Linked DNA regions of Homo sapiens: region 1 is linked to region 2. Evidence: fine-mapped expression QTL. Tissue or cell type: whole blood. Region 2 holds a variant in brackets; the other region holds the start of a gene. All regions are shown on one strand. Distances are between the middles of the regions.

The links. PIP is the estimated chance that this variant, and not a neighbour inherited with it, causes the effect.
Region 1: CASD1 starts here. The variant in region 2 is fine-mapped to the expression of CASD1 in whole blood (TOPMed, PIP above 0.99).

Annotation. Positions count from the first base shown.
Region 1 is chr7:94,507,848-94,512,997 of GRCh38, forward strand. CASD1 (CAS1 domain sialic acid O acetyltransferase 1) reads left to right here and starts at 1,962. Exons shown (of 18, transcript NM_022900.5): 1 at 1,962-2,370. The coding sequence starts at 2,238. RefSeq lists enhancers at 1,247-2,235, 2,236-3,222 and silencers at 1,756-1,975, 2,016-2,165, 2,266-2,625.
Region 2 is chr7:94,754,549-94,759,698 of GRCh38, forward strand. No RefSeq gene overlaps it. Among named protein-coding and RNA genes, the nearest start is that of PEG10, 100 kb to the left of the region's middle. The variant C/T (reference allele first, on the strand shown) is at 3,139.

The sequences.
Region 1 (5,150 bases), 250 kb before region 2:
AGAATTGGAAGACACAGAAAAAGAATGATTTGCATGGGGATAACTGATGGAGGAATCAACACCCTCAAGAAAGGAGGATAAGAAAAGATTCAGAGCAGAGGTAGAGAGATTGGCCTTAAACTTGAGAGAAGAAAAAGGAGGTTCACAAGCTATTTACAGTATTTAAGAAAGCCTTCTGGAAATTGCAATTAATAGAATGTCAAGTTTCTTTACTTTTTGCAGGCATTAACTCAACCCTTTGGGTTAACACTGGTTATTGCATGCTGATCAGAAATTCTAATTTGCTGGTAATGACATCATAGAAATGTCTAGGATGTGATTGGCAGACCATATATTGTTGGCAGAGTTATCTGGTTTTTACAATACCCAATTCTTACAACATGTGATCAACCTCTGATCAGAATGACAGCCAAAATTAAAAGACTATTTGCAGGGAACAGTGCCTAAGTGTTTGTACACTTATTTAACTTTATTGCTTATTAGCATTACATCCATGACAGTGATGTATGTGATTTCATTTAAGTGACAAAATCTTTCAAGATATAAAGTCCATGGATGAAAACATAATAAAGAGTCCTTGGATGAAGAGAATGGGAATGAGTAGACAAGATCTCTACAGTCCCTTCATATCTAATATTCTATAATTTTAAGAGGGGCCTATAAGCACAAGTTCAGGAATGGCTAAATGGGAAAGTTGTAAAGAATACTTGACAACACCCCAACTAAACAATGACTCACTCTAAACAAGGCAAGGCAAGTAGAATGGCAAGCAATGTAAATAACCATTCCCATCTGGAAGGCAACAAGAAAAACCATTTAAAAAAGGTGGGGTGGGAGCGAGAGGAGAGTAGGGATAACAATGCTTTATTAAGGAAATGGAGTGCTGGCTTTATTGAGAATCACAAAACATTAACCAACGTTAGTAGCGGGGATGATTGTCATAAGCACATTAAGAAAAATTTTTTTTGGCTAGGCTTGGTGGCTCATGCCTGTAATCCCAGCACTTTGGGAGGCCGAGATGGGCAGATCATTTGAGGTCAGGAGTTCGAGACCAGCCTGACCAAAATGGTGAAACCCCCGTCTCTATTAAAATACAAAAATTAAACGGGTGTGGTGGCGGGCGCCTGCAATCTCTGCTACTCGGCAGGCTCAGGCAGGACAACCATTTGAACCCAGGAGGGGGAGGCTGCAGTGAGCGAAGATCACGCCACTGCACTAGAGCTTGGGCGACAGGGTGAGACTCCCTCTCAAAAAAAACGAATTTTTTTGGCACATCGACCTAGCCAAACTTGCGTAAATACAAGTGAGAGTCAGACTCTTTTCTCATCAACACCTACACTAAGTTAGGCTCCTTCTGTACCTTCCATTCGGAACTTTGGTGTACTTTCGCCCACCAGAACTGGGCAAACTGAGGACATTAAAAAAACGGTTTAAGAGAAACTGGCCAGAGCGGTGAGTTAAGTGTTAAGACTGGTTTCACTCCTGGGTTGGATGCCAGCAATCCATCGGCCAGCACCATCAACTGGATCCATCAATCCAATCTGGCCAGCACCCAGGGGCAGCCAGACTGACCAGCCAGGCCACGGATAGCCAGACAATAAACGACCTTAGGGTGTCCTTCGCATCCCGCTGGGCGGGTTCTGGCAGTAGAAGGCTGAGAAAGGGGAGTGTTGGGGAAGGAAGGAATGGGACGATGTGTACTTTTCTCCCGGAACTGTAGTTCTATTGCCCCAACCTGGGCTCAGGTAGCGGCCAGTAAACTAGGAGACAGCCCTAAGGCTCGCGTCCGGGCCAGGCGGGTACCCCTAGTACTCTCTCCCCACACCCCCATGGCTCTGCCGCAGCCGCCGCCGCCCGCCGGGGCGCGTGACCCGGTGACCCCGGAGCACTGGGCATCCGGACCCCCCTCGCAGGCGCAGCCGCTATTAAGGCAGGAGGCTAAAGAGGAGGAGGAAGGGGAGGAGACAGGCGTCCAGGGCGCCTGGGGAACCGGCACGGCGGAGCAGCGGCGGCGGGGCTGGGGGGAGGCCGCCGAGTCGGCCGCGGCCGAGGAGGGGCAGGCGGAGGTCGGGGGCGCCGCGGCCGCGGGGTCAGGTTCCCCGGCGGGAGGCGCAGGTGGCGGCCTGGGGAGCTGGCGGCCGCTCCTCGCCTGGCTGCAGCGGCGGCAGCCCCAGTGCTGCCCCTGTGCGGCGCCCCTTTCCCGCTCCGCCGCGCACTGTTGTCATGGAGGAACCAAGATGGCGGCTCTGGCCTACAACCTGGGCAAGCGGGAGATCAACCACTACTTCAGCGTGAGGAGCGCCAAGGTGCTGGCGCTGGTGGCCGTGCTGCTGCTCGCAGCGTGCCACCTCGCCTCCCGCCGCTACCGAGGTGAGCGGGCCCTCCCCTCTGCCCGGGCAGGCCGTGGGGGAGGCGGCGACGCGGCGGCTGGAGGCCGCCCCCATCGCCCAACACACGCCCACGCGGCCTTCCGCCGGCCCGGCCCGCGGGGGAGGCGGTTCCCCCAGGTGTCCCCAGCAGCGGCCGGCGCCCGAGGCCAACTGAGTGGACCCCAGTGGGGGCCACCAAAGGACAATGGCTGGTGGTTCTGGGCGCCCCGAGCCGCCCGCGCTGGGGTCGGGGGCGCCAACCCTGGACCTGGCCAAAAGTGCTGCTGAGGTCCGGCTCCTGAGCGGTCTGGGTTCGGGGAGACGCTCCAGATCAGGGGCTCGCGTGCAGGAAGTCGGACAGGCGGTCCTTGGGGGCAGCCCGGGGCGCATGAAGCCCAAGGCCGCCCTGCAAGGGGCACCGCTGCCAGCAGTGGGGTCGCAGGTCCTGCCTCTTAAGGGTCCGGCTCCTTAGCCTTTGTTTAATTTTGCCTCTGCCCTGTAACACCCAGTCTGGGCTGTTGGACAGCGGCAAGGGCCGCCCCCATTTTCCTTTGCCAAAAGGGCGACAGCTGGCAAAAGATGCCTGTGGCCAAATGGAAGAGGTGCCACCCAGCTTTTGTGATGCAGAAACGTTTAAAGGCTTCGGAGTGCACACTTTTTACAAAGTTAAGGCACCAGAGCAGATTTTTGGAAGGAAGTTGTGGGTTGACAGGCGTAAAGGTGGGCAGTTGAAAGCAAGTTGTAAGCACTTTGAAAGCAGGCCTTGGCCATGGGTTTTGAAATTGGTGTAAAGGGGAAAAGGAAATATGACCTGATTTGAGAATGAATTATCTTTCAGTAATCAAGGGATATTTACTTCTCCTTGCTGATTGATTGTTTTTTTTCCTTTGTAAAAATGTCACTGGGAGAGAGGCTGACAGGCAGAGGGAAATTAATAATGATAGGATCTTTTATTTTTGGCTCTTAATACTATCAAAGCCATTATCTGGCCAGCTCTTGGTGACTGTGAGATTAATCAGTCAAGATGTAATGTGTAATGGACAGGTGCAAATTAGCGCTGTGCCCGTTTAAATTTACACCTACTTTGGCAAAATATCCATAAACGGGTTGTTGGAGTCTGCGCTGTATTCTCATCCCAGGAGATCTTTCAATTTTGGTCAGTTTTGCTGCTTTATTTCTTCCAACTCTTGAGAATTAAAAATATTGTACTCTAGAGCCATACTGGGTGAACAGCTTTTAGTATACTAAATTGATTTTAAAAATTAGATTCTTTATAACCTTTTGGCCTCTCTCCAGCTCTCTCCAGATCACAGCCATACGACCTTGCAAGGCCTTGGTTTATCTACAATCATGTAAAACTAGCAATGTTGATGCATTGATTTGTGGTGGTTTTGAGGAAATATTTCTTTTAACTACTATTAATCATTTTATGCCAATTTGGTATAAAAGAACAGTAATTTAATTCAATTTATGTAATGGTAGTAGAGAGAAATTTTATAACTACAGTACTATTGTCCTAAGATAAATAAACATCTAGTCCCCTTCCTTTTATTTTTTTGTGCTTTTTATCTTTTGATAACCTTGGACTACTATTATTTTTAGATTATAGATTTCATCTTATCAAGATCTGTCATCAGCAGGGAGAATAGAATGTCAGATGGGGACTTATGAGTCAGTGTAGCAATCTGGGATTGTTTATAAAGCCTTCTCCAGAAGTAAGTCATCAGTTTCCATAGGTACTTCAGTGCCTTGAGTGTGAAGCATACACCTGGTGAGTGTACTTGCCCAGACTGAATGTCAAGAATTTGAGCTGAAGACTGGGAAAAATAAACATCTTACCAGGAATATCCTCATGCTTTGGCAGTATCAAACTGAGTCAGGTGCAATGCCCTTCACACAAAGATAATCATACATTTGACTCACATTATAACTCTTTAGGACAGAGGTGGCCAATCTTTTGGCTTCCGTGGGCCCCATTGGAAGAAGAAGAACTGTCTTTGGGCCACACATAATATTAACACTCATGATAGCTGATGAGCTTAAAAAAAATTGCAAAAAATCTCGTATCATTTAAAGAAGGTTTACGAATTTGGGCTGCATTCAAAGCCATCCTGGGCCTCCAGCAGCCCAGGCCATGGCTTGGAAAATCTTGCTTTAGAATAAGAAAGGATCTTACATTAGATGAAGGAGATTAGGCTGTGTATTTGGATTTTGAATGTGTGAGTATGAGTGTGCTGAGGCAAGGTAGAGTGAATGCAGTTTGGATATACATATTCAGTATCTCTTGCTTTACAAACTACCGAAAGTAAAGGAAAGAATTACCCACTACAGAAAGTAAAGCTTGGCGAATACTGTGTGCTAACGTTGAGCACTTATATGTCAGGGACTGTTCTACTAAAGGTTTTACATGTTTTAACTCATTTTGTCTTTATAACCATTCTATGAGGTAGATACAATTACCATATTTCACTCCTCTCCACTATTTTTAACATCTTTGTAATCAGGGTGAGTCTTTAAAACTTTGATTGCATGTCAAAGTTTAATTGGTAACATTTTTTTCTTACTGTGACATAAAATAATCATGTGTCTAATAATCAGTGGTCTTAGATTCAGTGAATTACAGTATTATTTCCATTTTAAATATGAAGCATGACAGATTAAATTGCCTAAGGATACACAGTGACTGAGCTAGGATTTAGATCCCAGTTAGTCTGTCTCATGCCTTATGTTACAGTCTGTCTTTCTCAGAACTTCTTAGACAGTGGGGAGTATAGAAGATAG
Region 2 (5,150 bases):
TTTCAAAAAGCAGCTCCTGGATTCATTGATTTTTTGAAGGTTTTTTTGTGTCTCTATCTCCTTCAGTTTTGCTCTGATCTTAGGTATTTCTTTTCTTTTGCTAGCTTTTGAATTTGTCTGCTCTTGCTTCTCTAGTTCTTTTAATTGTGATGTTAGGTTGTCAATTTTAGATCTTTCCTGCTTTCTCTTGTGGGCATTTAGTGCTATTAATTTCCCTCTACACACTATTTTAAATGTGTCCCAGAGATTCTGGTACATTGTGTCTTTTTTCTCGGTGGTTTCAAAGAACTTCTTGATTTCTGCTGTCATTTTCTTATTTACCCAGTAGTCATTCAGGAGCAGATTGTTCAGTTTCCATGTATTTGTGCAGTTTTGAGTGAGTTTCTTAATCCTGAGTTCTAATTTGATTCCACTGTGGTCGGAGAGACGTTTGTTATGATTTCCTTTTTTTTTTTTTTTGCATTTGCTGAGGAGTGTTTTACTTCCAATTATGTGGTCAATTTTAGAATAAATGATGTGGTGCTGAGAAGAATGTATATTCTGTTGATTCGGGGTGGAGAGTTCTGTAGATGTCTATTAGGTCTGCTTGGTCCAGAGCTGAGTTCACGTCCTGGATATCCTCGTTAATTTTCTGTCTCGTTGATCTGTCTAATATGGACAGTGGGGTGTTAAAGTCTCCCACTGTTATTGTGTGGGAGTCTAAGTCTCTTTGTAGGTCTCTAAGAACTTGCTCTGTGAATCTGGGTGATCCTGTATTGGGTGCATATATATTTAGGATAGTAAGCTCTTCTTGTTACATTGATCCCTTTACCATTATTTAATGCCCTTGTCTGTCTCATTTGATCTTTGTTGGTTTAAAGTCTGTTTTATCAGAGACTAGGATTGCAACCCCTGCTGTTTTTCTTTTTTTTTTTTTTGCTTTGCATTTGCTTGGTAAATATTCCTCCCTCCCTTTATTTTGAGCCTATGTGTGTCTTTGCACATGAGATGGGTCTCCTGAATACAGCACACTGATGGATCTTGACTCTTTATCTAATTTGCCAGTCTGTGTCTTTTAATTGGGGCATTTAGCCCATTTACATTTAAGGTTAATATTGTTATGTGTGAATTTGATCTGGCCATTGTGATGCTAGCTGGTTATTTTGTCCATTAGTTGATGTGATTTCTTCCTAGTGTTGATGGTCTTTACAATTTGGTATCTTTTCGCAGTGGCTGGTATTGGTTGTTCCTTTCCATGTTTAGTGCTTCCCTCAGGAGCTCTTGTAGGGCAGTCCTGCTGGTGACAAAAATCTCCCAGCATTTCCTTGTCTGTAAAGGATTTTATTTCTTCTTCGCTTATGAAGCTTAGTTTGGCTGGATATAAAATTCTGGGTTGAAAATTCTTTTCTTTAAGAATCTTGAATATTGGCCCCCACTCTCTTCTGGCTTGTAGGATTTCTGCCAAGAGATCCCCTGTTATTCTGATGTGCTTCCTTTTGTGGGTAACCCGACCTTTCTCTCTGGCTGCCCTTAATATTTTTTCCTTCATTTCAACCTTGGTGAATATGATGATTATATGTCTTGGGGTTGCTCTTCTCGAGGAATATCTTTGTGATGTTCTCTGTATTTCCTGAATTTGAATGTTGGCCTGCCTTGCTAGGCTGGGGAAATTCTCCTGGATAATATCCTGAAGAGTGTTTTCTAACTTGGTTCCTTTGTCCCCATCACTTTCAGGTACACCAATCAAACATAGATTTGGTCTTTTCACCTAGTCCCATACTTCTTTGGGGCTTTGTTCATTTCTTTTCACTCTTTTTTCTCTAATCATATTTTCTCACTTTATTTCATTGAGTTGATCTTCAATGTCTGATATTCTTTCTTTCGCTTGATCGTTTCGTCTATTGATACTTGTGTATGCTTCACGAAGTTCTCATGCTGTGTTTTTCAGCTCCATCAGGTCATTTATGTTCTTCTCTAAACTGGTTATTCTAATTAGCAACTTGTCTAACCTTTTATCGAGGTTCTTAGCTTCCTTGCATTGGGTTAGAACATGCTCCTTTTGCTTGGAGGAGTTTGTTATTACGCATGTTCTGAAGCCTACTTCTGTCAATTTGTCAAACTCATTCTCCATCCAGTTTTGTTCCCTTGCTGGTGAGGAGTTGTTATCCTTTGTAGCAGAAGAGGCTTTCTGGTTTTTGGAATTTTCAGCCTTTTTGCACTGGTTTCTCCCCATCTTCAAGGATTTATCTACCTTTCATCTTTGAAGTCAGTGACCTTTGGATGGGGTCTCTGAGTGGATATCCTTTTTGTTGATGTTGATACTATTCCTTTCTGATTGTTAGTTTCCCTTCTAACAGGCCTCTCTGCTGCAGGTCTGCTGGAGTTTGCTGGAGGAGGGACAAGGCCTGAAAGCCCTGCTTGCTTTCTTAGCAGGGAGGCATGTAGCCTGGTTCAAGATCTCAGTCCTGAGCACCAGGGGCCTGGATATAAACTTGGCTCTGTTTGCTTTTGGGGGAGCATGGGAGTGAGACTGGCCTTGCTGGCTGTTGGGAAGCTGGGTGAGGCCTGTCACTGCTGGCTTTTTCTTACTTCCCTGGCAACCTGTACAAAGCAGCATAGGCAGCCATAATCCCCCTTGGAACCAAACTCCATTGGCCTGAGAACCACCCCTCATCCCCCACAGTGACCATAGCAAGCCTCGTCTGAGGAGAGTCTGAGCTCAGACATGCCTAACCCTGCCCCCACCTGATGGTTTTTCTCCACCTGCCACAGTAGCCAAAGACAAAAGACATAAACCCGTGGGAGCTCTACAGCCACATCCATCACCTGAGAGACTTGAATACTTATCCAGGTGACCTTAGGGCAAGCTTGTATCACCCCTATACTACCACAACTGATGCCCTCTTGAAAGTGCCACCTTCTGGCTGGAGGCCAACCAACTCGAGCATTTACAAAAACTCATAACAAAACAAACCCTGTTCCAAGGAAGAAAATAATAGCTAATTCCACCACCTATAACATCCTGGCTAACCAGAGGTCCTGAGTCTGGACACGGGACAACTTCACTGTTAGCATAACCAGCATTTGAGATAACGAGCATGCTAAACAAAACTACAACCAAGGACTTTCACAGAGTCCACTTCACTCCCCTGCTACCTC[C/T]ACCAGAACAGGAGCTGGTATCCATGGATGAGAGACCTGAAGATGGATCACATCACAGGACTCTTTGCAGATACTCCCCAGTACCAGCCTGGAGCCCAGTAGCTCCAATGGGTGGTTAGACCAAGAAGAGAAGTAACAATCACTGCAGTCCAGCTCTCAGGAAGCCCCATCCTTAGGGGAAGGGGAAGAGCACCATATCAAGGATCATCCTGTGGGACAAAAGAATCTGAACAGCAGCCCCTGAGTCCCAGATCTTTCCTCTGACATAGCCTACCCCAATGAGAAGGAACCAGAAAAACAATTCTGGTAATATGACAAAACAAAGTTCTATAACACCCTCAAAGGTTCACACTTGCTTACCAGCAATGAATCCAAACCAAGACAAAATCTCTGAATTGCCAGAAAAAGAATTTAAAAGGTTAATTATTAAGCTACTCAAGGAGGCACCAGAGAAAGGTGAAAACCATCTTAAAGAAATTGTTAAGAATGCAGGATATGGATAACAACTATCCAGAGAAATAGATAGCATAAATAAAAATCACAATTCCTGCAAATTAAGGACACACTTAGAGAAATATAAAGTGCATGGGGAAGTCTCAGCAATAGAATTGAACAAGTAGAAGAAAGAACGTCAGAGCTTGAAGACAAGGCTTTCAAATTAACCCAATCTGACAAAGACAAAGAAAAAACTTTTTTTAATGAACAAAGCCTCCAAGAAGTTTGCAATTATGTTAAATTATCAAACCTTCCTGTTTCAGAGGAAGAAGAAAAATATCAAAGATTGGAAAACATATTTGAGGGAATAATCAAGGAAAACATCTTTGGCCTTGCTAGAAAACTACATATCCAAATACAAAGCTTCCCTGGCCTTGCTAGAGAACTAGATATCCAACACCCAGGAAATTCATTACAAAAAAAGTCATCACCTAGGCACATAGTTAACAGGTTATATAAAGTCAAGAAGAAGGAAAGAATCTTAAGAGCTGTGAGGCAAAAGCATCAGGTAACCTATAGGGAAAACCTATCACATTAAAAGCAGATTTCTCAGCAGAAACCCTACAAGCTAGAAGGCACTGGGGTCCTATCTTTAGCCTCCTTAAACAAAATAATTATCCAGCAAGAATTTTGTATCCAGCAAAACTAAGCTTCATAAATGAAGGAAAAATAAAGTCTTTTTCAGACAAACAAATGATGAGAGAATTCACCACTGCCAAGCCAGCACTACAAGAACTGCTAAAAGGAGTTCTAAATCTTAAAACCTCAAAATACACCAAAATAGAATCTCCTTAAAGGATAAATCTCACTGGGCTTATAAAACAATAACACAATGGGAAAATAAACCAAGATATTCAAGCAACAATTAGCACAATGGATAGAATAATACCTCGAATCTCAATACTAACATTGAATGCAAATGGCCTGAATGTTCCACTTAAAAGATACAGAATGGCAGAATGGATAAGAATTCACCAACCAAGTATCTACTGTCTTCAAGAGACTCACCTAACCCATGAGGAATCACATAAACTTAAGGTAAAGGTGTGGGAAAAAATTCCATGCAAATGGTTGGAAATGAGCAGGAGTAGCTATTCTTATAGCAGACAAAACAGACTTTAAAGCAGCAACAGTTTAAAAAGACAAAGAGGGACATTATATAATGATATATATATATATAGTGATATATATGACATTATATAATGATAAAAAGATTAGTCCAACAGGAAAATATCACAATCCTAAATATATATGCACCTAACACTGGAGCTCCCAAATTTACAAAACACTAACAAATAAGATAGACAGCAACACAATAATAGTGGGGGCTTCAGTACTCCACTGACAGCACTAGACAGGTCATCAAGACAGAAAATCAACAAAGAAACAATGGAATTAAACTATACTGTAGAACAAATGGAATTAACAAATATTTACAGAATATTCTACCCAACGACTGCAGCATACACATTCTATTCATCGGCACACAGAACGTTTTCCAAGATAGACCATATGAT